4 linked regions of the Homo sapiens genome follow. The protein of the gene in region 4 interacts with the protein of the main gene of each other region in a biochemical or structural test. Each region holds a gene or a part of one and is shown on either strand. Other genes may lie near its edges. The genes, in order: CD93, KLK1, PLG and KNG1.

Region 1 (8,053 bases), on a different chromosome or scaffold from region 4:
TCTCATATTTTTCAAGCTTCCTTTGCAAATAAACCCAAGGCTATTAGAAATGTAAGAACTAAAGAGGCACTTCCTGCCTCCTTGCCACCTAAGAGGTTAATTGCACTTCTGGCCATTCTGGAGGATGTCAACAGTATCACATTTAGCAAGACTTGTGCTGGCGAAATGGAGGAATGCAAATGTAAAGAAATGTTTCCAGTCCGAACATGTTCCCTTTGACCAAAAAACCAGATCTTCTTACCTAATTGAATAATTAATTGATTTAGTTTTCATCCTAGGAAGAGAAACAAATCATTTCAATCCTAATCAGCATGAGCAACTCACCTTTTCCTCTTAGATGGTGGAAGTGAGCAGAGAAGATATTCAGGGGAGCCCCTTAGCCCCGGCCTCCTCACACCCTGATCCGGAATTGGTCACATTGGAATTTGAAAAGGGAGGGGGAGTAACAATCATTATAGAGTCACGAAATCCCCACCGTGGCACGCCAACACACAGCTTCCACTTCAGGAACATCAAACACCCGTAGAAAATACCTGCATGTTCCAAGGGGCCTTTAAGGAGGAGACTTACAATTGTTTGCTAAGATTCCAGTCCAGTCTTTCAAAAAAATGTGGGTGCCCCTTTGGAATGGGGAGTTCAAAGCTCTGAGGATGGTGGCTGGTGACTCTAGTGTCTCTAGGGCCACCTCACTTTCAGCAGTCTGTCCCAGGTGTCGGACTATGGGAAACAAAACAGACAGCGTTGGAAGCCATGGCGCCTCTGTGCCTGCACGTCCCCACCTTGGGAGAGAGCCCCACGTGCGGCCGTGCTGCAGATGGGCAGTATGCTCTAAGGGGGCCCGAGTGCCTGGCGTGGGGGGAGGTTGAGGGGTCAGCTGCAAGGACCAGGGTGTGTCTGCCCACAGGAAACCTGGGCCTGCTCTTGCTGCCACCTCTTTGTACTGTAGTCAGTGCCCCCATGCCTGCCCATCCCCTCCCCCGGTCACTCAGGGCCCCCTTTACCTGTACTGGTTCTCCATGGCCCTGCTCTCAGCTCGCTCTGGAACCCAGGAGTAACTGTCTGCCGCATTCTGGGGCTTCTTCTCCTTCTTCTCCTCCCTCTTCGCTCTCCGCTTGCGATAGACCAGTAGCCCCAGAGCCAGGGCCAGCAGGAGTAGGATGGCCACCACGGTGCCTAGGATGTAGAATAAAAGCAGCTTTTGCCCGTCAGTGCCATCGTTGTTTTGTGTGGCCACGGAGGAGTCCCCACCTGCAGGCTCCTGGGGGCCAGAGGCAGCTGTGGCGTGATGGATGCTGGGCTCCCTCCAGACGCCTGGGGACCCACTGGGGGCCAGCATCTTGAGTGGGGCAGATGTGATGGGGGCGTCAGATGACAGCGAAGGTCTACTTGTGGTGGGTGTAGCCTTGGGGGTGCCCTCGGGGCCCCTTGTGGGACTGGCTGTTGCAGCACGGGGCACGGTGCTCCCTTCTTTCTCTCCTTTGTCCTCCTCATCGGGGGGCCCAGATGGTGGTCCCAGAGACACAGGCCCCATGGTGCAAGAGACCCCATTTGGGGCCAGCACCCAGCCTGGCAGGCAGCCACAGTGGAAGGACCCTTGTGTGTTGAAGCACAAGCTGTCGCAGAGGGGGCCCCCCGGGCCCACACACTCATCCACGTCCTGGCACTGAGTCCCGTCCTCCCCGGCCAGGACGTAGCCCTCCTCACAGGAGCAGTGAAATGAGCCATCTGTGTTGGTGCAGCCCTGGGCGCAAGGCGAGCGACCCAGAGCACACTCATCCACATCCTGACAGGCCCCCTCTCCAGGACCGCCCGGCTCATAGCCAACCCAGCATTCGCAGCGGAAGCCCCCAGGGGTGTTGACACACTCCTGGGCACAGGGGGAGTCCTGGCATTCATCCACGTCCACACAGTCCAGCTGACTCGAGTCCAGCTGGTACCCTTGGGGGCAGCGGCACGTGTAGTTTTTCCCATGGGGTCCCAGGACGCACGTGGCCCCCCCACGACATGGGCTGGAGCTGCAAGGGTTTCGAGAGGCACAGGTCACCAGGTCATCCAGCAGCCGGAATCCTGGTCGGCAGCCGCAGAGGAAGGAGCCATCCCCCCCTTCAAAGCAGTCCTGGTGGCAGCCCCCATTGTTGAAGTTGCAGCCATACTTGGGGCTGACACAGAGGGGGCCCGAGCTGCCCCAGTCGAACACATCGGGGGCCTTCTCCTTGCACAGGAAATAATGACTCTGAGTCTCGTCCTTGTCACCTTCCCCACAGGCTACATTGGCCGCAGAGGCAAAGGGCACAGCCTCCAAGGAGGAACTGGTGGTCTGGAAGGGGGTGGTGTAGGTCACCTGACCTGGGCCCCCCAGGGCCAGAGGCCGGCACATGCCTTTGAAGCTGAACTTGCACACGAAGCCCTCAATGTTACTTCCGGGGGAGCCTGGGCTCCCACAGGGGCCCTCAGACCACTTGGGGAGGCGGCTGGGAAGGAGCGGCTGGGACAGGTCCAGCAGCAGAGACACACAGCGCTTGGAGATGCACGAGTTCCGGAGCTCCTTGTGCCAGTTAGAGTAAGGCGTGTCCTCCCCCCCGCCCACCCAGCTGAAGCCCTTCAGCGGCAGACTAGGGTCCAGGCACTTGCCCTTCTCTCGCTGGAGCCCAATCCAGAACTTGCTCATCCTCGCCGTCAGGGCTGCCTCCCGCCTCAGGAGCTGGGCCAGTACTCGCTGGACGTGCTGGGCCTCCTCCTTGCTCTTCACAGTGGCCAGGTTGCCCCCGTTCTGGTTGCAGTGGTTCTGGGCCTCGGCAGCGCTCAGCTTGCCCGAGTGGGCCGTGTAGCAGGCGGTCCCCACGCAGACCACCGCCTCCGTGTCAGCTCCCGTCCCCGCCCCGGGCTGGGTCAGGAGCAGCAGCAGCAGCAGCAGCAGGCCCATGGAGGTGGCCATCCCGGTCTCTGTGTGGCCCTCTGCGGGAGGCGAGAAGCCCAGCGGCGACAGGAGCTTCTATCTCGGCTCCCAGCTGGGCCCCAAGGGGAGCTGAGGGGTGAGCTGCAGCCACTCCGGCGCAGAGAAGGACACAAAGGCTGAGGGCTTTCCACGTCCCCCTGACCCAAGGCGCATCCTGTACTGTTGTACTTCTTATTTCTCACCGGATGTTGGGGCTTCCTGCAATGAATAGTTCTCTGACTCCTGCTGCCTTCATCACGGTGCTGTTGTTCATAAAAGGAGTCAGGCAGCTCTGCCGGGTCCCTGGCTCAGCACTGTGGAAACAGCGACGGGGGGAAGACGTTACAGCCCCGAGATACTGCCGGCTTGATTTTGGCTCCATTCTCTTTCTCATGGCATGAGGAGCCTCGGAGGCATGCCATGGAGTGAGCAGGGGCTTTGGGGGCTAGGAACTCGAGGAAGCTCCCTTAGTAACCCATAATAAAATTCCACTTTGGTTTGCAAACCACCAAAAGAGAAAAAAAAAATTCTGAGACTTAAGACACAAGGCCATGGATGGTTATAATTTTCAGCCTTTTTTAGAAGCAAACTGGACTTTCCTTTTGCCTAGCTCATGTTCTCTGTTGACTTTGGGAGCCTTTTTTCTTTTATCCTCCCATCGTGAACCTTAAATAGACAGGCATTTTTTAAATAGGATACGGGTCGTGGGAATGTCTGGGTTTTCAACATAATGCCAAGCTCCTCGATAATGTTAATCCAAATTGGGTGAAATTTGGCAGTTCTGGGGGTTTCATAGTGGAAATATTGCATTGTGAGGTGTCAGGGTCACAAAAAGCATCAGAAAGAAAATGAAAATGTGTCCGGCCTCGTGGCGCAGGGCTTGCAGGCTCACTTCCCCCGGCTCAGGATTCCTAGCAAGGGCCGGAAATCTGGGCAGGGAGCGGGAATCGAAGCCCGGGCAGGCCCTCCCGCGACACCGCGACTCGGCAAAAGCCAGGGACTCACAGTGTGCTTTTCCTGCAGCCACAGACCTTTGCTCATTGGTTGGGATCCCCCAGGAGGGGACCCTGAGACAGGATTTGGGGAGACTAGTTTATGTGGGAGGGGAAGTGAAACAGACAAGGAGGAAGCCAACCCATGATGACTTGCTGAGAAGGTGACCCTGGGCTGCTGGAGCCAGTGCCAGGAAACTCTGGGGGCCTGAGGGGACCACACCTCAGCACCATCTCAGCTGAGGGAGAGGCTCCACTGCTCTCCAAGTCCCCTGTCATTGGTAGCAGGCTGTATCTCTCACTTTGAGAGACTGACTATAAATTCTAGCCCTGCCCAGTGACCAGGGGTCTCTCTCACATAAAACTTGTTTCTATGGACAGACACCCTTGTGGCTCTCGTCTGACCCATGTCCAGTTTATTCCTATCAAGACAGCCACTTCCTAAGAGATCCCTGATGGGAGGAGAGTTGGGTTGGGGTGTGGGTCAGGGGAGATGCAGGAGGCAGCACAAGAAGACACAGGAAGCAACACAAGCACCGTGTCACTTACAGATCCCAGGGAGAGGGCAGTGCACCCCACGGGGCCAGCAAAAAGTGGGGAGCTGTCTGGGTCACAAACACTCACCTGGAGGGGGGTGAAGGGAGAGAGAGAGACCTGGGTCCTAAGCCTTTATTGGGGTCCAGGACGTTTCCCAAGCAGGTTTCCCAAGGGGACTTCTCACTGGTGGGTTTAGAGCAAACAGACACGGGCTCCGTGGGGTCCCTGTGGCTGAGAGGTGGGCATGGCGGCATGTCTGGGAAGTCCCTGTGGGGTGTGGAGTCACTGAGACCATCAAATGGGCTGTATCTGCCTGTCCCACAGGGAAATGGTCACCAGGAGGTGGGTGTACAAGGCAGATATCTGGGTTGGCCGCATTGAGGAACTGGGAGGGGGTGGAGCCCTAGACACCGTGTCAAGAGCAATAAACCCTGCTTCTGGTAGGAGAGGGTCCAAATTAGATTCAAAATGGATGCAATGCACAATTATAAGAATTCTCTACACAGCGGCAACTCTTTGGTGCTCTGCACTGACCGTGAGGGCCCCAGGGGAAGAAGCGCCACGGTGGAGAACACAGTGAACGCCTGTGGACCCGGCACCAGCGACCACCACAGTGGCCTCCATGGAGATGTTGAGTTGTCCCGGGGGCTAGGAGCTCGCTGGCTCCCCAAGGGACAAGGAGGCATCTCTGACTCCAGCTGGATACCTCCTAAGAATGTGCCTTAAGTCCTTGCATTTTAGCAAAGATATTTGAGACATTTTGGGAACTCTCCATAGAAGCCACCAGACCCTCCCTGTGCCCCTTCATTCATCCATCTGTTTGTCCATCCACCCATCTAACAATTGTTGATTAAGACCCTGCTATGCACTGAGTGAGGCACTGGATTCCAGGAGGGGATCCCTGCCTCTGTGATCCTGGAGTCCTGTTAGAGTGGACAACTTTGAACAAGTCACGGCACTGATGGCTTTATTGCAGGCAGCACAGGGGAGCGGGGAGGTCGTGGTTGATACAGGGGTGGCATCCTGACTGGGGGATGGGCAATTAGGAGAGACTCCTCTGGAGAAGACAGGCAGTCAAGCCGGAATCTAAAGGAGAAGCAGCTCAGATGTGGAATGGTGTCGGGATGGGGGAACAGCATGTACAGAAGCCCTGGGGACAGAGAGTGAGTGAAGGGCAGGGAGACCAAAGCCCAGGCAGTGGGAGGGAGGATGCAGGGGAAGATGGAGCCCTGTGAACCCCAGTAATGAAGGCTTGAGGCTTCGTCTTGAAATCCACGGGGAAACACTGAGGGCTGGCATGAGGCCTACATGTGGAAGGGGACTGGTCAGTGGACCCAAGCAGTGGGTGGGGGGGCCCTCAGCAGGTGGCCGCAGGTTTCCAGGCTGTGGAGTCCAGGTCAGATGTTCTCGGGGCTGGGTGGAGGTGGGGGGAAGGGCACCGGGCACGCAGAAGGACTGCATGGCTCCTGCCGGGAGCTGGGGTCCTGGAAGGCTGTGTCCGCTGGAGGTACCTGGTTCTGAGAACACAGGGGATTGCCTCTTGGGGCTCAGGGTCTCCCAGACCCCCTGTCCTTGTGACCTGCCTCCTCGGGACGCTAAGTGTGCCACCAGAGCTGGGTAAGCAGCCAGCTGTGAGGGGTCCAGGGAAGGCTGGTGTCCCTGGCTCCCAGTCAATATAGCTGGCCATGCATTTGAGTTTGGCAAGGGTCAGTCTTGTTCTCTGCTTGGGAGAAGCTTCATTTCTAAGGGTTTATTTACAAGCAGGTAACTTCTTAACATTCTGTAAAATCAATTCTGCAGCCCTAGCATCCACTCATAGCAGGGAGCCGTTCTCGTGGTCTAGGCCCCTGTTTGTGCAGCTCGGAGGTAGATTCCTCAGAGGTAGATTGTGATCTGCAGCATTCGCTCAGCATTCTACTTAGTTGGTGCTTAAGGATATGGGCTAAATGAGTGACTTTCAGCATGTTAGCCACTCTGACCCCCAGATCTTTGTCAAGATATCTTCTTTAGCTGTAAGTTATTCATCTTCCATGTGGGAACTTTCAAACCAATTACTGTTCACTTAGCCAAGTGATGACATCTTAAAGAAGAAAATGAACTAGCAAGACATATACTCTGTTTTTTATCCATTAACCTTGGAAGTATTTGTAAAGCACCAACAGTGAGAAAGACTATGTAAAATGCAGAAACTGCCTTGCCCTGGGGGTCCTTGGATTTTACTTTATTATTTTCAGTAACTTGGTTAACTCAGCCCCACTTCTCATCTATAAATGCAGAGGTGGGAACAGGGCCTCTGGAAACTTTCTTGCTCTAACATTAATAAAAGTGAAATCATGCTTAACTCTCCCCTCTGGAATTAGGGAGAAAGCAAGTTGGGAAGAGAGTGGACACTGAGACCATTGCTGAGCCCTCGACATACTGCACATGTAAGCAAACCTCTGTCTAAACTGCACACACCCAATTTCATCCCAAATTGACCCGCTGACTGCCAAGACACAGGGTAGTTTCCTATTCCTTGTCCCCCACATCTGACTTCCACTGTGTCCCTTCACCCTTTGGCTGATCCCTGCTGGGCTCAGGTGGGTTAATTCACCTGGGACACTTACAGCTAGGTTCTCTAGCTCCAGCCCCGCCCTTCTGTGTCCGCTCCCACCTATAGGGGACGCTCCTTAGAGGCTGTTCAGGGGATTCGTAGAGGCTGAGGGCATGGTGCTTCGACCTCAGGGGAGGATGAAGAGCTTGCTTTTCCTGGGAGGGATTTGGTGGAGTTTTACAAAGAATTTAAGATAGTCTGAATGCAAACTTTGAGGGAATTCTGCACCTCACATACTAAATTCCCCATGGATGGTGTTTCATCCCATTTTATTTAGAGAGCAGATTATACCAGACCTCTCCAAGGACCGATACTTAAACAGCAGGAATCAGCAGAAGGAGATGGAAAAAGTTTTTCTCGGCAGATCTTTGGACGGAAGCCACGTTAGGTGTTCTAGAACCATGGCGAGCCTAACAGCATGGCATGTACCCTGAGCAAAAGGCTCCTCACCATTTGTGTGTATTCTGCAGTCTTTATGAGTACTCTGAGCTTTCTTTTTAAATTGCCTTAAAAATTTACTTTGCACGATGCTGGAATGGAATGTTCTGATCTCAAATATGGGGCGAGTTTAATCTCAGTTATTTGGGAGCAGACTAATTGGTTTGTGGATCATTCAGGCATCCGGCCTGTCTTTTTCCTTTTTTTTTTTTTTTGTAACTAAAAATTAAATTAAAAAGGGAAACAAAGCACACTGCGTATTTCCTGGCATAACATGGTATATGGTAGACTCACAATGAGCAACAGTGGCACAGAAATGGTGGAGGAAATGAAACAGAACTGGAGTCACTGTGACCTGTCATTCTATGGGACCACTTAGGGATTTTGTGTTCAAAGTTTAAAACAGAAACAGAGTGAAAACTGTGAGACCTGATATTTTTGTTTGTCAGTACAGATTTTAGTTCATACATGAGGCGCTTAACAGAATTTGAATAACATTTTTGTAAAATTGAAATTTGTCCTTTATTAATCGTTTGCTTTAAAACTTAAAAAACTAGG
Region 2 (7,834 bases), on a different chromosome or scaffold from region 4:
TGTCCAGACTCTGGGGCCAAGGCTGGGTCACACATACTGAGTGGCCACATGCGTTTGACGTCTGTGACAATTTGGTGACCGTGAATGACTGGTTTCAAGTGACCACCTGTCTGAACCTGTATCCAGTGCCCCTGTCTCCACCCCCAACCACAGAGGACTTCTTGCCCTCTGGTCTGTTCCCCTTCCTCTCTCTCCCAGAGTCTTATAGCAAATGGGGTGGGGGCTAGAGTTCTGGAGAAAACAGGCAGCGGTTGTAAATAAACAACAGGGCAGGCGGAGCATGGTGGCTCACACCTGTAATCCCAGCACTTTGGGAGGCTGAGGCGGGCAGAGCATTTGAAGTCAGAAGTTTGAGACTACCCTGGCTAACATGGTGAGACCTCGTCTCTACTAAAAATACAAAAATTAGCCAGGTGTGGTGGCGGGCACCTCAGCTACTCGGGAGGCTGAGGCAGGAGGATCACTTGAACCCAGGAGGCGGAAGTTGCAGTGAGCTGAGATCATGCCACTGCACTCCAGCCTGGGCAAAAGAGTGAGACTCCGTCTCAAAAACAACAACAACAACAAACAAAAACAGGGCAGGGTGTCTTGAGAAGTTAGGGGAAAGGCATAGGCATATAGTAGTTAGGGCAGGGTGCAAGGAAGGTGTAGGAGGCAATGTAAACGTCCCTGTCCTCAGGCATCCTCTACCCCTTCTCTTAGCAGCCCAGGATGGTGACAAGTTGCTGGAAGGTGACGAGTGTGCACCCCACTCCCAGCCATGGCAAGTGGCTCTCTACGAGCGTGGACGCTTTAACTGTGGCGCTTCCCTCATCTCCCCACACTGGGTGCTGTCTGCGGCCCACTGCCAAAGCCGGTATGAAGGCAGGGGCTCAGGGTCCTGAGGGAGCCTGGTTCGGGGGGAAGAGCTCCTAGATTTGGGGGAAGACGGAGGCAGACGCCAGAACTCCTGGGTTCTGAAAGACGAGGAGGCCGGATGTCAAGCCCCTGGGTTAGGAAGGAGTGTGTGTTTCAAAGCCTTCGATCTCTGAAGGAGGAAGGAGAAGACTAGTTCCAGCTTTTGAGCCTCAGTTCTAGGGATGTGAGAATCCTGGATTCGGGGACAGACCAGGAGGGGGCTGGGAGTAGTTGGAGGGGATCGAGTTCTAGGAGTGTGCCTGACTTCAGACTCGTTGGTCCTTGAGGAGCAGGGGCTGGAACCATTGGCTTCAGGGTCTTGGGAAAAGGTAATGGGATGTCGAGATTTCTAAAGGGTCGGGAGACCTCGGGTTGCCCACTCTTTGATCTTTCTGTCCTCTACTTGCGGGTAACCACTGGCCCGCACTCCACTGGCGGGAAAACCACTCGCCCGCACAGCTTCATGAGAGTGCGCCTGGGAGAGCACAACCTGCGCAAGCGCGATGGCCCAGAGCAACTACGGACCACGTCTCGGGTCATTCCACACCCGCGCTACGAAGCGCGCAGCCACCGCAACGACATCATGTTGCTGCGCCTAGTCCAGCCCGCACGCCTGAACCCCCAGGTGCGCCCCGCGGTGCTACCCACGCGTTGCCCCCACCCGGGGGAGGCCTGTGTGGTGTCTGGCTGGGGCCTGGTGTCCCACAACGAGCCTGGGACCGCTGGGAGCCCCCGGTCACAAGGTGCGTGAAAGGATGGAGCTGGATGCGAGGCCTCAAGGAATCCTATGCTCCAGGGCTCTTGGGCGGAGGGGACAAGGGCCGGAATTTATGGATCTGCTCCAAGTCCACTGTCTTCCCCAGTGAGTCTCCCAGATACGTTGCATTGTGCCAACATCAGCATTATCTCGGACACATCTTGTGACAAGAGCTACCCAGGGCGCCTGACAAACACCATGGTGTGTGCAGGCGCGGAGGGCAGAGGCGCAGAATCCTGTGAGGTCAGAGCCTAGAGGGGCCATCAGGCGGAAGAAGAGGGATGGGGACAGGTGTGGGAGTCCGGATGGGGTTGGATTTTCTTTGCTTTGGGCCAGAGAAGATGCTAGGGTTAGGCTTGGAGATGGAGTAGGAAGAGAAGTTAGAATAGGGGTGAGGTTGGAGTTGGGGTTATAGGTGGGGATTGCGTTGTTTGAGGTGGATAATGTGATAGTTAGTTTGAGATGGCATGGGTTGGGGTTGAGAATGGGAATGGTTTGGTTTGATTCTGGGTGGGAAATACGTCAGGGTTGAATTGGGATGAGGTAGATTTTGTTTGGAATGCAGAAGACATGAAGATTGAGATTGGATTTTGAGATGGGCATGGGTTTGATTTGATTTTGAATGGTGAGGATGTGGGCTGAGTTGGATTTAACTTAGTACAGTTGCACTGGAGTTGCATGGGGGTGAGATTGGATATAGGTTGGGTGAGTTGTATTGAGCTGTGTTGAATTGGGGTTGGGGTTGGGGTTGGGTTGGCTCTGTTTGGGATAAACTGGGCTGTATTGAGTTGAGTTGGGTTGGGGTTCCCTGGGATGGGGATGGATTGGGTTTGGGGTGAGATTGCAAATGGTGATTAGGATGAGGATGAATCCAGGAGGTTTCACTCAACCTGAGACCCCCTCTTTTCCCCACAGGGTGACTCTGGGGGACCCCTGGTCTGTGGGGGCATCCTGCAGGGCATTGTGTCCTGGGGTGACGTCCCTTGTGACAACACCACCAAGCCTGGTGTCTATACCAAAGTCTGCCACTACTTGGAGTGGATCAGGGAAACCATGAAGAGGAACTGACTATTCTAGCCTATCTCCTGTGCCCCTGACTGAGCAGAAGCCCCCACAGCTGGCCAGCAGCCCCGCCTGACATGGAACAGAACGGAGCCATCCCCCAAGACCCTGTCCAAGGCCCAGATGTTAGCCAAGGACTTGTCCCACCTGAGGACAAAGCTGGCGCTCAAGGTCACCTGTTTAATGCCAAGATAACAAAGCGCTGATCCAAGTTGCTCTGTAGGAATTTCTGTGACTTTTTTCTGGGGTCAAAGAGAAACCCCGAGACACTGTACACTGTTCCTTTTCACCCACCACCCCGATCCCTAGGTGAGGAGAAGCGGCTTGAAGCAGGGCTCCATTCATTCAACACACATGACCACCCGTGTGATCTTGAACAAGAGGCCCAATCTCACTTCGCCTTGGTTTCCTTATCTGTAAAATGAGACCATCTTATTGCTGACTTCAAAGGGCTGTTGTGAGGATTAAATGAGATGATTCGTCTGAACTGATTAAAATCGTGTCTGGCACTGAGTAAATACCCTCTATCTCTGGATCCCAGTTAAAGGACCTAACAGACACTAGATTACCAAGAATGGCTTTTTCTTTAAGGTTTAGTTCTGGGCCGGGCATGGTGGCTCACACCTGTAATCCCAGCACTTTGGGAGGCCAAGGCGGGCGGCTCACTTGAGGTCAGGAGTGCAAGACCAGCCTGGCCAACATGGTGAAACCCCATCTCTACTAAAAATACTAAAAAAATTTAGCCGGGCGTGGTGGCACACGACTGTAATCCTAGCTACTTGGGAGGGTGATGTGGGAGGATCGCTTGAACTTAGGAGGCAGGAGTTGCAGTGAGCCGAGATCGCGCCACTGCACTCCAGCCTGGTGACAGAGCAAGACTCCATCTCAGAAAAAAAAAAAAAAAAAAAAAGATTTAGTTCTGGGCTTCCTGGTAGCCATGGCAAAAAGGCAAATACTGTCCTTTCCTTAGCCAGGTCCCTGATATACAGCAGAGGCTGGAACTCTGAGCTGCTTTGATTTTACCAAAAAGCCAAGACAACCTGTTGGAAGCCTATGGGTTTACCATTGAGGCTGCAGGAATCTAGTTCCTAATTATCTTCAGAGACCACAAAATGTGATGTTCAAGGTCGCTGAATGTTGAAGTACATGAACCTGGCTCGTGAGACCTAAATATTGTACTGGTGGTGGGGGGGAAGGGTCATTGGAATCTGTGGTTAGCCTGATCTTGACCTGGGAGGGAAGGTTGTCCAGATCTCTGGGACTTTGGAGGACAGGACGTTGAGCACCCATAACTGGGAGCAAGAAGTGGGAGGCTCATTGAGACCCCAGCATTGTTTGGGAGGGACACTGGATTTTGTAATGCTAAAGAACTTACCCTGGGAGACCCCTGAAACTTCACATTCCTGGATCTGGAGGCACTAGGAATGTGGTGATGTGTACCCCAAAATTTTATTATGAAAGGAACAGTAGCTTTGGGGACCTAGGTCCTGGGTCTGGGAGTGCAAGAACCAGGGCATTCTGAAGGCCAAGGCTTATATTTCAGGGGGAACTGGCAGCTGAGATGCTAGTATCTTGGCTCCGAGTGGTGCAGGGAATCAGAGCCCTAACTGCTGGTGTTTGAGGGCACCAGGTCTGGGGGTGCAGGGCCTTAATTGAGACTGAGGTATATGGGGCTTTGTACCAGGGGTCACTGATTCCTCCGTCTTCCTGTTTCTGCTTCCCCTCAGTCCCCCCTTGCCTCACTGGCTGCTCCCCAGAGCAAAGCCCCAGAGCCACAGGCCCTGCCCCACCTGGCTTCAACCCCAGGAATGCGTCCAGCGTGATCCAGGGCCTGCAGAACAGGTGCTGGTTCTCCCTCCCCGTCTACAGCTCTGGGGATCGGAGGGGGGGGGGGCAATTGTCCAGCCCCCAGGCAACAGGGGAAGGGCCTTGGCCAACATCTGGGTGCCAGCAGGGCAGGGGTGGGGCTCTGAGGGGATAAGGGCTTTTAAAAGCCTCCCCAGGGAGGTTCCCCAGTTCCTCCACCTGCTGGCCCCTGGACACCTCTGTCACCATGTGGTTCCTGGTTCTGTGCCTCGCCCTGTCCCTGGGGGGGACTGGTGAGACAGTGGGGGGATGTGGGAGGGGGAACGGGCCCTGATTCTCTTGCTGGCCTCACATCCCCCCCCGATAAGACCTTCCCCTCCAACACCCCACCCTCATCCCTCTGGCCCACAGTCTATCCTAGTCCGGGGTGCCCCGGCTCTTATCTATCTTGCGCGGCCCCACCCTAAACTTCCACCCCCGCTCCTCCATGTTGTCATAGTGCTCACTCCCACACCAGATTCCTGCTCCTCCCAGGAAGCCTCAGTACTTTCTCCTCTTCCCTAGCCAACGCCCTGTCCCACCGCTTTACCAAAGGGGCAGATTCTGGGCCATCTCTGTCTCTCTCTGGAGGACCCCAACCCTCCCATGGGCTTCCCCCACCCCACAGGACTCTGATCATCCCCTCCTGCCCCCTAGTTCCCTGCGGCCACCTATTTGGCTCCTGAGTCTACAAATCCCACCACACTCCAGTGACTTTTTCCATCCAGCTGTCCGCTCTCAACTGTGTCCTCCAGACCCTGACATCTGGTCTCCCCAGTCCTTCCAGGGTCCCCCAAATTTCACCAGAAAACCCTGCTTCCCAAACTGGCATGTGGGATCCCCCATCTGGTATGGGGGGGGGTCTGCAAATGTCCCTTCCCACCCAGCACCCCCAGCTCTCCCAGGAAAAACACCACACCCTCCCACCACATGCTCCTTTCCTTGGGGAAGTTCCATCCCGCCCCAGGCCCCAGCCCTTCTCTGCCTGAATTGTTCCTACACAGCTCTGGTTTTCTGGAACCCCACCCCAAGGATCCTGAATGCCTTCTCAGCCAGCGCTTCTGCCCTGGCCTCCCCCAAGTCAGTATGTGATTCTACAACCTCACGTCAAGTGGGTCCTGCATTGCATTCCCACAGCTGCTTGGCGCCTGTTCTCACCACTTCTCCAATCCTCTTCCTAGGATTGCCTCCAAGAGGACCCCATATCCTTCCAGTACCCTCAGACCATGAACCCCATCCCCATGAGAAACGAAGATCCCATCCTTCACCCTGTCCGAGAAGGACTGCCACTCACGCCTCCCTCCTCCTGAGCCCCGTCCCAGTCCTGACCGCAACTGTGTTCTCAGGGCCCCAACCTCCCCTCAGATTGCCATTCCTGGTTCACAGGAAGGACCCCAAAACCTCTCGGAAGCCCACCTCTAGCCTTAACCATAGCCCTTTCTTTTACCCTTTAACCAGGAAGCCCTGAAATCTAACTGTCCCAGCCAAGCTGGCCCCTTCCAACCCCAATGTAGGGACCCCAAGTCACCCCCAAACTCTTCAGTCCAGATGCTCTTCTTTACCTCTCAGACCTGGTTCCCTAAAGCTGCATCCTTTCCTGAACCTCAAAAGCCCAACCCAGGTCCTGTTTCCCTAGCCTAGGAGCCCCTTAGCCCTCCAGATTCTTCCTCAGTGAGCCTCTGATCCTGTCCCACCCTTGGCGCCTTGATCCCTGGTTTCCAGAATCCCTTTCCACTCCCCTAACCCACCACCTCCCATCCCCCAGCCCCAGACCCCAAATGACCTGACGCCCAGATGCAGTGTCTGCTCCAGACACTGTCTCCTGTCTCCTACCCTGATCCCTGGAGGCTGCTCTACTGTCAGAGCACAAAATCTCCCCACCAGGTCCAGCCACCACTCCAAAAGCCCAGGGAACAGTCCAGAGTCCCACCCCTTCCCAACACCCCTTGCCCATGTCCCCAACCTCCAGCCCTGGTCCTCTACCCGCAATGTCCCTTCAGACCCACAGCCCAGCTCCCTCTCCTAGCCTTGTCCCTGGCCTCTCCTGCCAACCCTGCCCTTCCTGACCCAGCACCGCCTCTGCAGGTGCTGCGCCCCCGATTCAGTCCCGGATTGTGGGAGGCTGGGAGTGTGAGCAGCATTCCCAGCCCTGGCAGGCGGCTCTGTACCATTTCAGCACTTTCCAGTGTGGGGGCATCCTGGTGCACCGCCAGTGGGTGCTCACAGCTGCTCATTGCATCAGCGAGTGAGTAGGGGCCTGGGGTCTGGGAGGAGGGCATCTATGCTGCCACAGGATTGACAGGCCAGTGGCATTCCCCTTGGATAACCTCAGGCAAGACTGGGGGGCTGAGGCAGAGAGGAAGGCTCTGGCGCAGGTCGCCTGGCAGGGCAGAGCTGGGCTGGACACCCCTCTCCAAGGCTGCCTGGGTCTCTTGGGATCTGGTTCTGCTTGTGTCTCTGTGTGACTGTGTTCTGGTCTCTGTCTTCCTCTCTCTCCTCTGTCTCCTTGTCTCTGCATCTCCCCTGTCTCTGTCTGTCTCTGAGTCTCTCTGCGGCATCTCTGTCACTGTGTCTCACCCTCCATCTCTCTACCCATCTCTCTCTCTCTGGGTCTCTACCTCACCGCTCCCTCATCCCTACTAAACACACACCCAGATGGACCTAAGGGAGGCCCCAGAGTAAAGGAAGGGCTTTATCCCCAACTTGTGTGCCTGGGAGGGGGCGCCTCTCCCTCTGTCCAGCTCCCCGCCCCACAGGATATCCCTCCACTCTGGAGAGACACAGGGAAGGGCTGGTTTCAGCGGGAGCTGGGTGGGGCAACTGAGGGAGGAGGAAGGAGGAGGCGGGGCGAGAAACGCGCGGGAGGGTGCTGGGAAGGGAAGGGGGCCTCGACCTTGGACTTCAGGCCAGGCCACCTGCCCCTGGGGAGCCCGCACCACAGCCCCAGCTGCAGCTGAGCCGCTCTCAGGCCTCCCCTCCTCCCTACCTGCCCCCACCCTCCCCACCTGCCCCCACCCTCCCCCAGGGCCTCCCTCCCTTTTCTCTCCCACACTCGGTCACTCCTGCTTCCTCTCTGCCTCTGTTTCTAGTTCTCACTCTGACGTCCCGCGTCCTTTTTCATTTGTCTGCTTCTCGCTCCCTTCCGTGTTCTGTTCCCTCTTCCTCCCTCTTCCCTGGGCCTGTTTCTCGCTGTCCCTGTCTTTTATCCTTCTCATCTGCCTCTTTTTTGCTCACCCTGTTTCTCACTGCCCTCCCCTCCGCCTTTTTCACCCC
Region 3 (7,437 bases), on a different chromosome or scaffold from region 4:
CACAAATACTAGTGAAAATAGAGCTGTGAGACTGTATTTATATCACCATAAAGAGAGTTCAGAACTTCAGAAGAAGAAATATTCCCAGAGATAAGAAGAAACATTACATAAAGATAAAGGGGTCCTTTCATCTAGAAGACATAACCATCCTAAATACATATGTGCCTAACAAAAGAGCTTCAAAATATACAAAAGAGTTACGATCTAAAAGAGAAATAGACTAATTTACAGTTAAAGTTGGACACATCACCATTCATCCACAGTAGTCAATGAAGGAGGAGACAGACAATCAGTAAGGATACAGAAGAACACCAGCAACCAACTTCACCTAAATGACCTTGAGGGAACACCCCACCCAACAACCGCAGAAGACACATTCTTTTCAAGAGCACATGAAACATTCACCAAGATGGCTATATTCTGAACCATAAAACAAACCTCAACAAATCTAAAAAAACTGAAATCATAAGGGCAGGCTTTCTGACCACAATAGCATTAAACTTACAAAGCTACTGTATATTGTGATGATGCCACTGGTATACAAAAATAAGGAGAAAACTTGGGCCCTCAGTAAGCTCCCATACCCTTGCTTACCTGTGGGAGCCAATTGTTCCGTGGATACTGGGGAGGAGTCACAGGACGGTATCTTACAGTACTCCCACCGCACTTGGCTGTTGGTTGTATGGCACCATGGGGCCCTTTTTCCGTCAGGATTGCGGCAGTAGTTTTCATCCAAATTTCTGAAAAAGAAGTGATTGTGAGTTTAGCTTTCCAAAAAGAAAAAAGTCTAGGGAACCACGCTTTGAGAACAACCGTTACGGGAAAAAACGTGCTAAAGTTCATTTCCTTTACTTATGACTAGATCAGTTTTTCTTCCAGAATACTTTATCCTGCGTTCCTACAGTAACTAAAACTAAGGCAAAGTCAATGGGATTTCACATTCCATAGCAGCAGAATGAGACCGGAGGGGACTTACTTGCAGGGGAAGTTTTCTGGTGTCCTGTTATGTGTGTGAGGGGTCTGTGCACTCCAGTGCTGACAGGTGTGCCCGGACACGGTAACAGCCACATTCCCGCGATAGTTTTCACCTGTTCCCTTCAGACACTGGTAGGTGGGACCAGAAGATGGTGGAGGTGTTGCTTGAATGGGCAAAATAAGTTACAATGAATATATATATTTTTTGAGACGGAGTCTCGCTCTGTCGCCCAGGCTGGAGTCAGTGGCACGATCTCAGCTCACTGCAACCTCTGCCTCCTGGGTTCAAGTCATTCTCCTGCCTCAGCCTCCCGAGTAGCTCAGACTACAGGTGCGTGTCACCACAACTGGCTAATTTTTTTGTATTTTTAGTAGAGGTGGGGTTTCATCATATTGGCCAGGTTGGTCTTGAACTCCTGACCTCGTGATCCGCCCACCTCGGCCTCCGGAAGTGCTGGGATTACAGGCGTGAGCCACCGTGCCCAGCCCTACAATGAATAATTTTAAAATAGAGAATGCACAGATGGATGTTAAGGAGGATGGCTGCAGGGTGTTCTGGCCTGTCTTGGCTTTTGCTCAGCCTCTCTTGGAATTTGGCACTTGAGAATTGTTTCATGTTTTCAGATGAAATCAATTTAGTAGCATCTATGCCTGTGAGACCCTTTCACAAGGAACTCCTTCAGAGAAAGACCCTTGGGTAGGTGCTTCTTTCTATGTTCTCTTTGCTCAGTTCTTCCTACCTGGTAAGTATCAACACGTGTCACCTCACACCCCGAATTCTCACATACACCAAAGGTCCACTCTCTTTCCTGAAGAATAAATTATTCACTGAGTAGACATGACTGAATGGCACCCAACATGCCATAAAAGCCAAACAACAGGGAAAGAGTCCATGGAAAGAAGGCAAAAAACACCTCCAAGGAAAAGTGTGTGCATCCAGAAATCAAGATATTCTTGAGGAAAAAAGATGACAAAAAGAGAAACTGAAAAAAAAAGAGAAATTAATATTCATAAAAAGGGAGAATGCCTGAGGAACTTCCGCTTTCAAAGGACACATGTCAGAGGAAAGGAGGGGAGGCCAACCCTCACTGAATCCTTTTTAACCTTTCATGCCTGTATTTCTCTTAGTGTGTAATCCTTTGCTTCAAATTCTCAGAGAGGAAAATATGATAAAATTGTTTACTCCACATCATTTCTACTAGGTCTGCCATTTCATCTTCTCCTCTTGAACTCTTCCCCACCCCCACCACTCACCCTCTGCTCCCCAAGGTGGAAAAACTGGACACCCACAGACCTGAACATTGTAAACAAAGACACTCTTTGTTTACAAAACAACTATTAGAACTCTGGTTGAAAATGAAATCCATGTGTCAGAGAGCATGGGTCTGATTTCCCTTTAGCACAGAGAGAATAGGATGAACAACACCTAAAGCCTACATTTCAGTGAACTCCTGAGGCAGAAGTTTCAGTTGCAAAGAAAGAAAAACATGATAAATGGACGCTCTGATCAATCACCCACAGTAACCAATAACCATAACTGTTTTAAACCAGCAATAAAATAAAGACCAATAACATCCCATAGGACTTGTAGGTCACTTTTCAGAGGCTGCACTCAGGCACTGACACATGTTTTCTTTTGATTTCAAGAACAGGGCAGGTCCAAATCCTGGAATCTGGGTGTGCATCATACTCACTGCAGCGGGGGATGTCACAAAGTTCCCAGCGCTTGTTGGGGTCGGTGGTGAAACACCAAGGCCGCAGCTCCCTATCGGGGTTACGACAGTAATTCTTCTTCAGGTTCTTGTTTGGAAATCTGAATGGACAAGAAAGATTTTAGTAGCACTGAACATTTACATTCATGGATAAGACTCTTTTTCAAGAGCAAACATTGAGCACCTGCTGTGTGCTAGGCACAGTCGGGCATGGAGGAGGTAATCAGATGAAGGCTGTGTTCAGAGATGGCAACAAGGAAACAAGGTTGGCCCTGTATTCCAAGGACTTTCTTTTTTTTGTTTGTTTTTAGAGACAGGGTCCCACTTATTGCCCAGGCTTGCCTTGAACTCCTTGAACTCACTCAAGCAATCCTCCCGCTTCAGCCCTTTAGGTAACTAGGACTACAGGCATGTGCCACCATGCCCGGCTGCCAAGCACTGTTTTTCTAACAGTTTACATGTGTAAAAATCACTCAACAGAATCAGTGACCTTATCATTTTGGCCATCTGGAAAATTGATGTAAGCAAATTCCAGTTATTCAACCACAAATGATAGCAGTCTTTAAAATGTAAAGTGCTCCCTGCCTAAAGATACTCATCTAGTACCTAACAGAGCCAAGAAATGTGCATCTTCATAGCTTAAAGGAATGGTCCTTCTGGTCTACCAGGCTCTGCTCCCACCAGCCTTGAAGCTTAGAAAAACCAAGAGGAGAAGCTGTGCTCTTGCAAGGGTCTCACCATGCAGTATGGGGCTGGATCCTTCCTCAGTGGGGCCCAGTGGCCAGGGCTGTTGGATGCACTCCATGCCTGGTGGCCCTCTGCGTTTATTCATTCCCTCTCTGATTGTAAATGCTTACCAGGATGGAAAGAGGAGCCAGCAGCGGCTTAAGCAATCCTCTTCTCCTTCTGGTTTCCTGGAAGTGCCTTTACCCAGTTTTGGACCCTTAGGTCTTTCCTGTATTTCTCCTTTGAAGGAAAATGGCAGCTGCTGTGTTTTAAGCTAGCTATTTGGAATGGGAGGTGTACAAATTCAATAGAGCTGCTTTCCACCGTGGAATCTGTGGCTCAGCCTCACTTCTGCATTCTTGAAAGCCCTGGTATGGCCCTGTAGTCATCATAGAATGAAGAGGAAGACCAGAAGCGACTGTGGAATGGGAGGTGTTTTCCAGCACAATTAATGTGAAATAGAATACTCACGAAACCTTATTCTAGGAACCATCATGACTTTCTAGAGCAAGAAGCTTATTCTTATTTTAAATTCGTGGTCCCCTTAGAGAATCTGATGGAAGTTACGAATCCTCATTCCAGAAAAACACATTGATGTAAATATACATAAAACATCAGGGATTCAAAAATCCATGACGTCTGCTCATAGGTCAAAGGTTAGGAGACTTGAATCTCATTGGTACAAAGGGAAAAGAAAGACAAGGAGTAAAGAGAAAAGGAAAATATTTGGAAAATACACCAGCAACATGTGTGTGTGCATTTCTGAAGACAGATGTTAATGTATTCATTACTGACATTAGTGTTTGAATGTGTGTGCACATCAGCTGAGGATCTGGTTATTATTCAAATCAGATTCAGAGGGTGTGACATTCTGGATTTCTAACAAACTCTCAGAAAACATCCCTGCTGCTGACCCGTGGACCATATTTTGAGCAGCAAGAATGCGTATTTCACTTGCAATATTGTGGGAGGAGGTTAGCTTTGAAATTAAAAACATCAGGCGTTCACTTCTTGAGGAATGCTAAAATATCTAAATGACAGCAAATGTCTGATAGAGCTGCAGAGCCTTAATTAAACATGGAATGTTTTTCCCAGTGAGACTTACTTGGAAGGAATGTATCCATGAGCGTGTGGGCTCTGAGAGTCCCAGGCCTGGCATTCCAGTCCAGACATGGTCTTGGAAATTTTGCCGTCATAGTTTTCTCCACTGCAATGCATACATTCCTCTGGACAGAGTGGGAAGGAAGGACAGAGAGGAAGAAGAAAACTGAAATGGATGAAGCAAAATAGAGAGTAAAAACCAGAATCCTACTCACTTAAGTGCGACTTGCCTCTCATTCCGATGTAATTCACAACAGGCACTTGGCAATAAAATTGGCAATAAGGACTCAGGATTTTCTAGCATAATCCAAATGTCATTTTCCTTTTAAACCGTAACATTCACATATTTTAGTCAATACTCCCTCAACTATTGTAGTCATGACCAAGTTCAGAATTTCCATGATGCCATGTCCTTAGACCGGGATGCACAGGCCAGTGGGGAGCCAAGGGTGCATATATTCCCAGGAGTCTACGTTCTCCATTAGGAGTTTTCAATATTTGGCATCTTCATTTCAATAATGATCTTTAAAACTTTGTATGAAATTATTCTGATCATTCCGCTGACTGCTGAATGACCTGGCACCGTCTCAGGGTTTTAGTCTGGAGTTTTTGTTTATGCTCATGGCCTCAGGGAGAACAATATTCACCTGAAGTGACAGCGCTTCTCTTTTTATGTTGTTGAGAAGCATGATTGGCTCTTTTTTGCAAAATTATTCACAAACTTAAACTTTGATTCAGAATTATTGAAGTAACATGGTGAGGCAGAGTAATATGTGACTTAAATTTTATGGAGTACTAAGGAAAACGGGCAGACTTAATATAACAGTGATGCATTGGTGGTGCTTAAGGGCAAATACCTATAACATGGTGTACAAATAAAGGATCCCCGTGATTCGAACAGGTGGAAGTGATGGGAGAACTGAGTTGTCACACAGTACCATATCCACACTGTCACACAAATCTCACCTTTATTTATTCCCTTTTGCACTAATGTAGCCAGAAATGTGAAACGATGACAGTTTTTTCAGTAGGATTTTTTTAAAATTTTTTAGCATTGACCTTTGAGGTGCACTATTAAATTGCTCAGTCCATTCAAATAATGGATTGCTGATTTAAAAACTGGTTCCTTGCTTAGCTTCAGCAAAACAGCAAAGTCTACCACATTAAATATATATTGTTTATTTGATTTTTATTGATTTTGTTGTTTTATTTTAACTATTTAATTGCAAACCTGTCTTGGGGTTAACACTGTGTAAGAGTTGTAAGCATAAGAAGTTTGTACTTAGAGTTTAGATGTAGTTTTATATTTGTACATGTTGATGTAACATTTTAATAAAAATAATTCAGGTCTGCTGGGCATGGTGGCTCATGCCTGTAATCCCAGCACTTTGAGAGGCTGAGGCAGGCGGATCACCTGAGGTCGAGAGTTCAAGACCAGCCTGACCTACGTGGAGAAACCCTGTCTCTACTAAAAATATAAAATTAGCCAGGCATGGTGGCACATGCCTGTAATCCCAGCTACTTGGGAGGCTGAGGTAGCAGAATCTCTTGAACCCGGAGGCGGAGGTTGTGGTGAGCCGAGATTGCACGGTTGCACTCTAGCCTGGGCAACGAGAGCAAAACTCTGTCTCAGAAAAAAAAAAAATTCAGGTTAATTCTGGGGTTTTGCTTCTTTCCGAGAGGTGAATACGTTACTCAATTATTAATAACATCCCTGTGGGAAGGGGCTTTACAACAAATTATTTTACAGGTGAAGGGCAGAAATGAAAACATTTTCTAGAACCACTCCTGACCTTCACACTCAAGAATGTCGCAGTAGTCATATCTCTTTTCTGGATCAGTAGTATAGCACCAGGGCCCCTGCGGATCGTTGTCTGGATTCCTGCAGTAGTTCTCCTCCAGTCCCTCTGAGGGGTGTGTAGCAGGTGAGAATCTGGGGAGGATGGAAAAGAAGCACTTAGACTATATTCTAAAAATCAGCTTGCTATTAGCAAGGCAGAAGGAGATGCTCTCGATTCCCATCTGAGATTGTCATCCAAATGCATTTCAGCTGGGTGCTGCAGCATTTGTGTGGTCAGATTTTCAATTTCTCTATTGATAGGCTGCTTCTGGCACAGTAGCTAATATTACCATTGCTACTGTGACAGCCAAGTCTTAGAGAGCCAAAATATTTTTATTGCACAGTCAGGAGAAATATAAAGGCCTCAAAAGGCTGCCATGGTCTTAATTCATTCCAAACACCTGCTTTTGTCAGTTACCGTTTTCTCTGTAAAAATTTTTGTAGTTAATACCATTTTGTCCATGTGAACTATCTGCCAGGAATTCCACTAACATCTTTCCACACATTCTCTCTTTTAGTCCTAATAAAACCATTTGAGGAAGGTGTTATTATCCCTATTTTACAGATGAGAAAACTGAGTGGCAACGTAAAACAAAACAAAACAAAACTTGCCTAAGTGTAAATAGCTATGAAGAAGCAGATCAAGAATTCAAAGTTGATCTGTCTGATTCCAAAGTCCTGGTTTTCTCTGAAATGCAGCTTGAATTATTGGGGATGGAGGAGGGATTTAAGCTTATTTTCAGTTCTAGAGATGAGTTGCTGTATAGAGACAACCATTTAGATGAAAATCACAAGACTTACAGTCTAGAAAGGCAGGTTTTATTTCTGGTTCTTCTGTGAACCTATTTGGGATAACCCCCACCCCCCGAGACCTCAGTTCCCTCATAAAGATGAGCCTAGACTACCTCATAAAAATGGCCCAGAGTGTCTCCATGGCCCCCGATAGTCTCTGACTTTGCCATTTGGTTGAATCAGTTTTCATTAACTCACGGGGAATATTTGATCTGCTCATCTCATAGGGATATAGCAAAGGCAATTTGTTGAGTGTTGGGGGAATGGATAAAGGTGAGTAACAAGCACTAA
Region 4 (7,657 bases):
GTAGGATTTGCATAGGAAGAGGGTCTGGGTAAAGGCATTCCTGGTGAATTCCTGGCACCACTACTTCTAGGTGGGTAGGGAATCAGAAAGAAGGGTGTTGGGGAATAATTGAATATAAGCAGGGGGTTCCAGAAGTTCTGTGTGGGCTCTGGAGCTGTCATTATTTGGGAGATGAGCCTGTGGGCTCATCTTAAGGCAAAACAAGGCTACTGTTTTCACTTCGATTCTTTGCTTACCTGGAGTGGATTTGAGTGGCTGAAGACATTATGGAAAGACATGAAGCCTCCCTTCTCTCTCCCAAAATAAACTACTCCCTCTTTGGTGAAACAACTGAAATCAGGAGGACAGACCAGGAGCACTACAGAGTACCACAGGAGTGCTACAAAGCAATGTACCCTTCTTAATGTATCAGAGAGGGAGCACTGCAAGTTGTAGAGAACAGGAGTGCTGGAACTTAGAATTCCATTCAGTGACCTTACTCCCATTCCAGACTCTGCTCCAGGTTATAGCACAGCGTGCTTCAGCACAGAGCTACCTCTGAGAGCTAGCATACAGAGTGGGTGAGTGGGAGAGGCCCCAGGGTGCCTGGGGAATCTCAGGCAGGCGACAGGGACATGAACTTGGAAGTTATTTTATGTATGCGGGAATGAGGGCCAGACCCAGGCAGTGGGAATTAGGGCAATGAGAATGAGGAATAGACATGAGAGATACTGCCAGTTGGTTGATGTTTGTCATGCATTTAGAAAATGCAAAGTTAGGCCGGGCATAGTGGCTCATGCCTGTAATCCCAGCACTTTGGGAGGCCGAGGTGGGTGGATCGCCTGAGGTCAGGAGTTTGAGACCATCCAGGGCAACATGGTGAAACCCCGTCTCTACTAAAAATACAAAAAATTAACCAGGTGTGGTGGCACGCACCTGTAGTCCCAAATACTTGGGAGGCTGAGGCAGAAGAATCGCTTGAGCCCCAGAGGTGAAGGTTGCAATGAGCCGAGATTATGCCACTGCACTCCAGCTTGGGCCACAGAGTGAGATTCCATCAAAACAGAAAGAAAAGAAAAAGAAAAAGAAAGAAAGAAAAGAAGGAAAGAAACAAAGAAAGAAAGAAAGAAAGAAAGAAAGAAAGAAAGAAAGAAAGAAAATGCAAAATTAAATAGACTGCAATGTATACAAGCCATGAAGTGAATAGAAGGCTAGAAGGAGAAGCATATAAAATGAATGACAGTGGCACCTCTGAGAAGAAGCTGGGGTGCAGGATGGGTGATTTTTCACACTCTTCTTATATTCATATCATTTGAACGTTTTCAGTGAAATGATATTCACCTTATCACTTAGGTGGTACATTTTGTGAAAGGCAGAATGAAGAATGGTGTTGAAGCACAGGCAACTCAGGTCTCCAGGGCAGAAGGGTTGGCCTAAGGGCAAGGCAGCAATGGTATGGTTTTCCTCACCACCACCCATGGGGAAGCCCAGTGCTGGTGCCTGCTCATGTCTAGCAGACAGCCATCCTCCTGTCTTAGTTCACCTTTCACAGCTGGGTTTAGGGGCCTCTAGAGCACAGGAGTGCCAGCCAGTTGTAGCCCTTGTACTTAGGGTAGAGCCAGCAGACACTTACCTTGACAGGATCTGTGAAAACCCATCTTTATGCTGTATAGTTCCCTTTTTTTTCAACACTTTCCTCCATGGCAGAAAACCACAACAACTTGAAATGAGACACTTCACCACCTGTGCTTTCTTCAAAGTGTACACGAGGACAGATTGTTGAGCCACTGGTGGGGCGATCTGATCATATTACTCTGATTTTTCTAAAGCTCTTCTTCCTTTGCTGAAAGACTGGAAGCTCACAACTCTGGCTGGGCATCTTCAGTTCCCCATATGCATACACACACACAGACACACACACACACACACACACACACACACACGCTTCTCTCCTCTTTGAACGTCTTTGGATTCTGCAGAGCAGATTTGTCCTATGATGTCATAAACTGTGAAGTCTTCAACCCTCAGGTTGGTTTTCTAAGTAGGCTTTGTTATGAGCAGTACCAGACTAAGTGGTATTTGCACACACATAGTGTCTTTGGTTCTTATGGCTCTGGGTGTGTGTGTGTCTGTGTGTGTGAGGGAGGAGTAGGGGAAGAGATACAACACTCCTGGGGAAGGGAGTGCAATTGCTAGTATCACATAAAAAGTATGAAAACTTTTCCAAGAATTAGGGAGGAATACGATTTGGCAGAAAAGTAAAGTCATATCCAATTCAATCAACCTTGAATGAATTTAAAGGTGCTCCTTGTAGTTAGGACGCCAGTGCTGAGGCTCAGTCATTGCTAGCTTTTAATATTAGACATAGCATCTGGGTGCGGTGGCTCACACCTGTAATTCTAGCACTTTGGGAAGCCAAGGCAGGCAGATCACTAGAGGTCAGGAGTTCGAGACCAGCCTGGCCAACATGGTGAAACCTCGTCTCTTCTAAAAATACAAAAATTAGCTGGGCGTAGTGGCAGTCCCCTGTAATCCCAGCTACTTGGGAGGCTGAGGCAGAAGAATTGCTTTAACCCGGGAAGTGCAATGAGCTGAGATTGCACCACTGCACCGCAGCCTAGGCCACAGAGCAAGACTCTGTCTCAAAAAAAAAAAAAAAAAAAAAAATTAGGCATAGAATCTAAGAATAAATTTAACCTGAAATTTATAAGTGTATATAAAATAAGATGCAAAACCATGTTTTACATCTCTCCAAGAAATCTTTGTTCTATTTTATAGGTGAGCACAAAGATTTTCTTTACATAATTTTTTATCAGAAACAAAAAGATTGAAAATAGTCCAAACATCTATGTCCTGTGTCAAAAAAAAAAAAAGGAAAAAAGAAAGAAAAAGAAAAATTAGGTTTGTCCTCATGAACATGGCTCTACAGACTTTTTAAAAAAATAAAGTCTGAACAAGGAGCAGAGTGAATAGGCCGAATTTTTTTTTTTTTTTTTTTTTTTTGGACAGAGTTTTGCTCTTGTTGCCCAGGCTGGATTGCAATGGCGCAATCTCAGCTCACTGCAATCTCCACCTCCCGGGTTCCAGCAATTCTCCTGCCTCAGCTTCCCGAGCAACTAGGATTACAGGCATGTGCCACTACGCCCGGCTAATTTTGTATTTTTAGTGGAGATGGGGTTTCTCCATGTTGGTCAGGCTGGTCTCGAACTCCCGACCTCAGGTGATCCACCCATCTCAGCCTCCCAAAGTGCTGGGATTACAGGTGTGAGCCACCGTGCCTGGCCAATTTTTACTGGAGTAAGGATGTTGATACCATCAAGCCTCACACTTCTGCTGAGATTATCAACTGTAGTTTTCCAATGTTGGTCTACAGGTGGGGACCATTCTGTAATATAGTTTCCCCACTCTGTGTTGATGTGAGGAAAATAAGAATAATAAAGTTTTATTGCTGGCTTTGAGGGAGAAGGGTTCTATGACCCGCCTTGGGGAAGAGAAATTCTAGCTTCTGTGGCCTGCCTTGAGAGAAGTGGAGCAGGAGAAAGACGGGCAGGAGAAAGCAAGAAAGAGACTTTGCTTTTGCAGCCTTTTTAATGTCTTTCAGTTCAAAGTACTCGGCATGCCAAAGAGCCATATTTGGGGCTATCTTTTTCTGTGCCAAACCAACAACACCAAACCAGAAAGAAGCAAGCATAGGGAATCCAGGGCTTCACTCAACCCATCCCTTCCTATGCTTTTCCTCTATCTCCACCCTGGGAGCAATTTTCTTTTACAGAACTAATGCAACTGAGCAGAGAAAGGCTGGCCTGTCCAGAGAGCAGATAGGACGCCCATATTTTATTTTCAGTTGTGCCAATGTCCTGCATGGGACTCCTGGAACTCACTGGATGCCCCTGTGCATGAGCTTCTTAGGCATGTAATAGAATTAACAGCAGTCTGCTTCTATGCAGGTAGGTATCCTGCAAAGAAACTTTGTATGAAATGTGTCTGCACATTGTACTCATTCTTGCATTGTTTACCCATGTAGTGACCTTCAAAAATGGCTTTGCAAAAGTCACAGGGGAATAACCGAGTTAGTAGGCACTTGTTTCCCCTCCTTCATCAGATTCTGCTCTGATTTGCTACATAAAGTTGTATAATCACCTGGAAATATGCACTGTGCTGCCACGTGATTTTCAAATGCAAATGAGCAGGTTAACAACCCCAGTGTTGCAATGTTCTAGCTGTAAATATGTTTGGATAACCCAGCAGAGCCATTTAACCTTTGGGAACAAGGCAACTAGCGTCTGGCAGCAGGAATCCAACCAGTGCCCTGAGTTCTGAGGCAGAGAGGAGGACAGAAGAAACAAGAGGCTGGAGATTGTCAAATTCAGTATCCCAGTTGGCTCTTGATTCTTGGTGAAACCATCCCTCAGCTCCTAGAGGGAGATTGTTAGATCATGAAACTAATTACCATCCTTTTCCTCTGCTCCAGGCTGCTACTAAGTTTAACCCAGGAATCACAGTCCGAGGAAATTGACTGCAATGACAAGGATTTATTTAAAGCTGTGGATGCTGCTCTGAAGAAATATAACAGTCAAAACCAAAGTAACAACCAGTTTGTATTGTACCGCATAACTGAAGCCACTAAGACGGTGAGTGAATTGTGTTTAACCTTGAAGTCACTTGGGATTTGTACTATCACTAGGAGTCCAGGCCTCACACACACACACACATACCACCACCAGCACCCACCACCACCACCCACCACCCACCACCATCACCCACCACCACCACCACAACCACCACCACCACCCACCACCACCACCACCATCCACCACCACCCACCACCCACCACCACCCACCACCATCACCCACCACCCACCACCCACCACCACCCACCATCATCACCCACCACCACCCACCACCATCACCCACCACCCACCACCACTCGCCACCATCACCCACCACCATCACCCACCACCCACCACCCACCACCACCAACCACCACCATCCACCACCACCAACCACCACCCACCACCACTACCACCCCTCACCACCCACCACCACCGCCACCCACCACCCACCACCATCACCCACCACCACCACCATCCACCACCACCACCCAACCACCACCACCCACCACCCACCACCATCACCCACCACCCACCACCACCCACCACCCACCACCCACCACCATCACCCACCACCTACCACCCACCACCCACCACCACCACCACCCACCACCACCCACCACCCACCACCACCACCACCCACCACCACCCACCACCACTACCACCCCTCACCACCCACCACCACCGCCACCCACCACCCACCACCATCACGCACTACCAAATATGTGATCATCAAAGGTAGAAGCTTACAACTTGTGGAAAGACAGATACCACTCTCTGGCCTGGGGTGGGAGGACAGAGTATGACTCGTCCTCAGGCAGGTTGGCTTCCTGGATGATCAGAGAAGTAGAATCTAGGGTGAAATGAAACAAAAGTAGATGGAGAAATCTCAACAGGACCAAGTAGAGAGGGAGAATTTAGGAATTTAGTTAGACTGCAGCAAAAGAATTCACTGGGTCTCTGGCCCTAGGCTAAAAACTATAGAACTCCAAACCTTTAATGGGAGGGGGTACTTCATGGGGCATGTCTAAGAGGAGTGAGGAATGAGGTTAATGTGATTCTACGGAATTAGACAGAAGTCTGTATGGCTGAATGTACTGGGTTTAACAGCAACGTTTTAGTTAGTTTTTGATATTATTGCAATGATGCACTCCAGCAGGAGACAAATCCTGGCAGGATGCATGGTTCAAAGAAATACCAATCTTTCAAGAGTATGTTTAAACAAATTTCACTATAAAAGACTATATCTCTGGGAATGTCAAGCAATTGGTTACTTTAGCAGAAAAAAAAAAACTAGCCATGTGACAACATGGGGATAAAGGAAAATAAACACAGTGGACATGTTATTTTTTCTGAAAGTAAAATCGAGCCATTTTCTTTCATAATCTAGTACAGTCATGTGAGAAATTCTGCTTCATGGTGATCTCAAGCAACAGTTTATTGGTGGTGTGGTACCCAATAGATTGTGGGTATGGTTGTAAATATACTAAAAAACATTAAATTGTATGCCTTTAGTGGGTAAATTTTATGGCATGTAAATTATATCTCAATAAAGCTGTTTAAAAAAGAAAAAGTAGGAAACAAAATAAACCAAATAAAAGTACTAAAATCACCCATAATTAATTCCACCATACAGAGATAACTGTTAACATTTGTTTAAGGTTTTCTTGTTTGCTTTTTCTAATTTGTAAAAGTCATATACGTTCATTAGGGGAAAAAGACCACTTAGAAATGTTTGCTTGGGCCGGGCGCGGTGGCTCATGCCTGTAATCCCAGCACTTTGGGAGGCCAAGGCGGGGGGATCACGAAGTCAGGAGATCGAGACCATGGTGAAACTCAGTCTCTACTAAAAAATACAAAAAAGTAGCCAGGCGTGGTGGAGGGCGCCTGTAGTCCCAGCTACTCTGGAGGCTGAGGCAGGAGAATGGCGTGAACCCGGGAGGCAGAGCTTGCAGTGAGCCGAGATCACGCCACTGCACTCCAGCCTGGGCGACAGAGCGAGACTCCATCTCAAAAAAAAAAAAAAGAAATGTTTGCTTGAAGAAGAAAGTGAAAGATAATTATAATCTCACCACTGACAGACAAACATTTTAACAGCTTGCTGTGTATCTTTCCAGACTTTTAAAAGACATAGATTTATATATAAACCAGTTTTGACAAAAATGGGCTAATACTATGCATACTGCTTTGTAACCTTTAAAAGTACATTGTGAATATATTATAAACATTCTTTCACATAAATGTTTATGATAGAAATATAAATATATTTTAAGTGAATGCTTTGCTCTCAAGTCAAAGATCAATATTCCTAACTTTACCGGAACCCACTAGAATTATTTGCTGTTGGGTCAGTTGGATGAACCCTAAGTATCTTTGGCTGCTTTTCAGGTTGGCTCTGACACGTTTTATTCCTTCAAGTACGAAATCAAGGAGGGGGATTGTCCTGTTCAAAGTGGCAAAACCTGGCAGGACTGTGAGTACAAGGATGCTGCAAAAGCAGTAAGTGTATTGGCCATTCTTGGGCCTTCTGTTTTCTCCGTTGACCCTGCCAGATTTTTTTACTGATGCAGAAATGATGGCTACTGGTGAGCCTGTTTATGAGAAATGCAAATAAACATTCCAATGTGTAGAAAAGTCAGATGCTTTATATCTGTGTTCTTGTATAGACAGAAAAATCATGGAGAAGCCAGCAGTTAAACATGGAGAAAGCCTTTCCATGAGAAGGGGGCTCTAGTGTCCAGCCAGAACATGTGGCTCAGACTCCAGAGAGATAACAAATTGACATTTGGGCCAAGCCAAAGAGCTGGCGAGGGGAGGGGGTGGGTGCTTCCATTGCACAACGTTAAGTGCAAATCTTGACTCTGCCTTCCATTAGCTGTGTGATAGCGGGGGAGCTGTGACCTCTCAGAACTGGCACTTTCTGCTGTATATGGGAGATAATATTGACCTCATCAGGTTGTTGGAGGATGAAATCAGATGAATTATGCAAATAACTTTGATAACAATGGCTATCTTAACCAAATGCCTAACATATAGGCCTGGCACACCATAGCTGGTTGTTGTTTTGC

Evidence for each region.
Region 1: the proteins of KNG1 (region 4) and CD93 form a complex in vitro, tested with the Homo sapiens proteins (one study listed by BioGRID).
Region 2: the proteins of KNG1 (region 4) and KLK1 form a complex in vitro, tested with the Homo sapiens proteins (one study listed by BioGRID).
Region 3: the proteins of KNG1 (region 4) and PLG form a complex in vitro, tested with the Homo sapiens proteins (one study listed by BioGRID).

The regions. Positions count from the first base shown.
Region 1 is NC_000020.11:23,083,258-23,091,310, forward strand, and holds the start of CD93 (complement component C1q receptor precursor), read right to left. Parts: upstream 3,068-8,053; 5' UTR 2,936-3,067; coding exon 1,002-2,935; intron 718-1,001; coding exon 693-717; 3' UTR 1-692. UniProt on the Homo sapiens protein: Cell surface receptor that plays a role in various physiological processes including inflammation, phagocytosis, and cell adhesion.
Region 2 is NC_000019.10:50,820,684-50,828,517, reverse strand, and holds the start of KLK1 (kallikrein-1 preproprotein), read left to right. Parts: upstream 1-4,730; 5' UTR 4,731-4,769; coding exon 4,770-4,815; intron 4,816-6,646; coding exon 6,647-6,806; intron 6,807-7,834. Other genes in the region: KLK15 (kallikrein-15 isoform 4 preproprotein), read left to right, coding at 703-856, 1,357-1,640, 1,761-1,897, 2,570-2,722.
Region 3 is NC_000006.12:160,711,996-160,719,432, reverse strand, and holds part of PLG (plasminogen isoform 1 precursor), read right to left. Parts: intron 6,448-7,437; coding exon 6,308-6,447; intron 4,640-6,307; coding exon 4,519-4,639; intron 2,789-4,518; coding exon 2,670-2,788; intron 1,140-2,669; coding exon 977-1,139; intron 741-976; coding exon 595-740; intron 1-594. UniProt on the Homo sapiens protein: Plasmin dissolves the fibrin of blood clots and acts as a proteolytic factor in a variety of other processes including embryonic development, tissue remodeling, tumor invasion, and inflammation. In ovulation, weakens the walls of the Graafian follicle.
Region 4 is NC_000003.12:186,713,128-186,720,784, forward strand, and holds the start of KNG1 (kininogen-1 isoform 1 precursor), read left to right. Parts: upstream 1-4,231; 5' UTR 4,232-4,415; coding exon 4,416-4,610; intron 4,611-6,977; coding exon 6,978-7,088; intron 7,089-7,657. UniProt on the Homo sapiens protein: Kininogens are inhibitors of thiol proteases.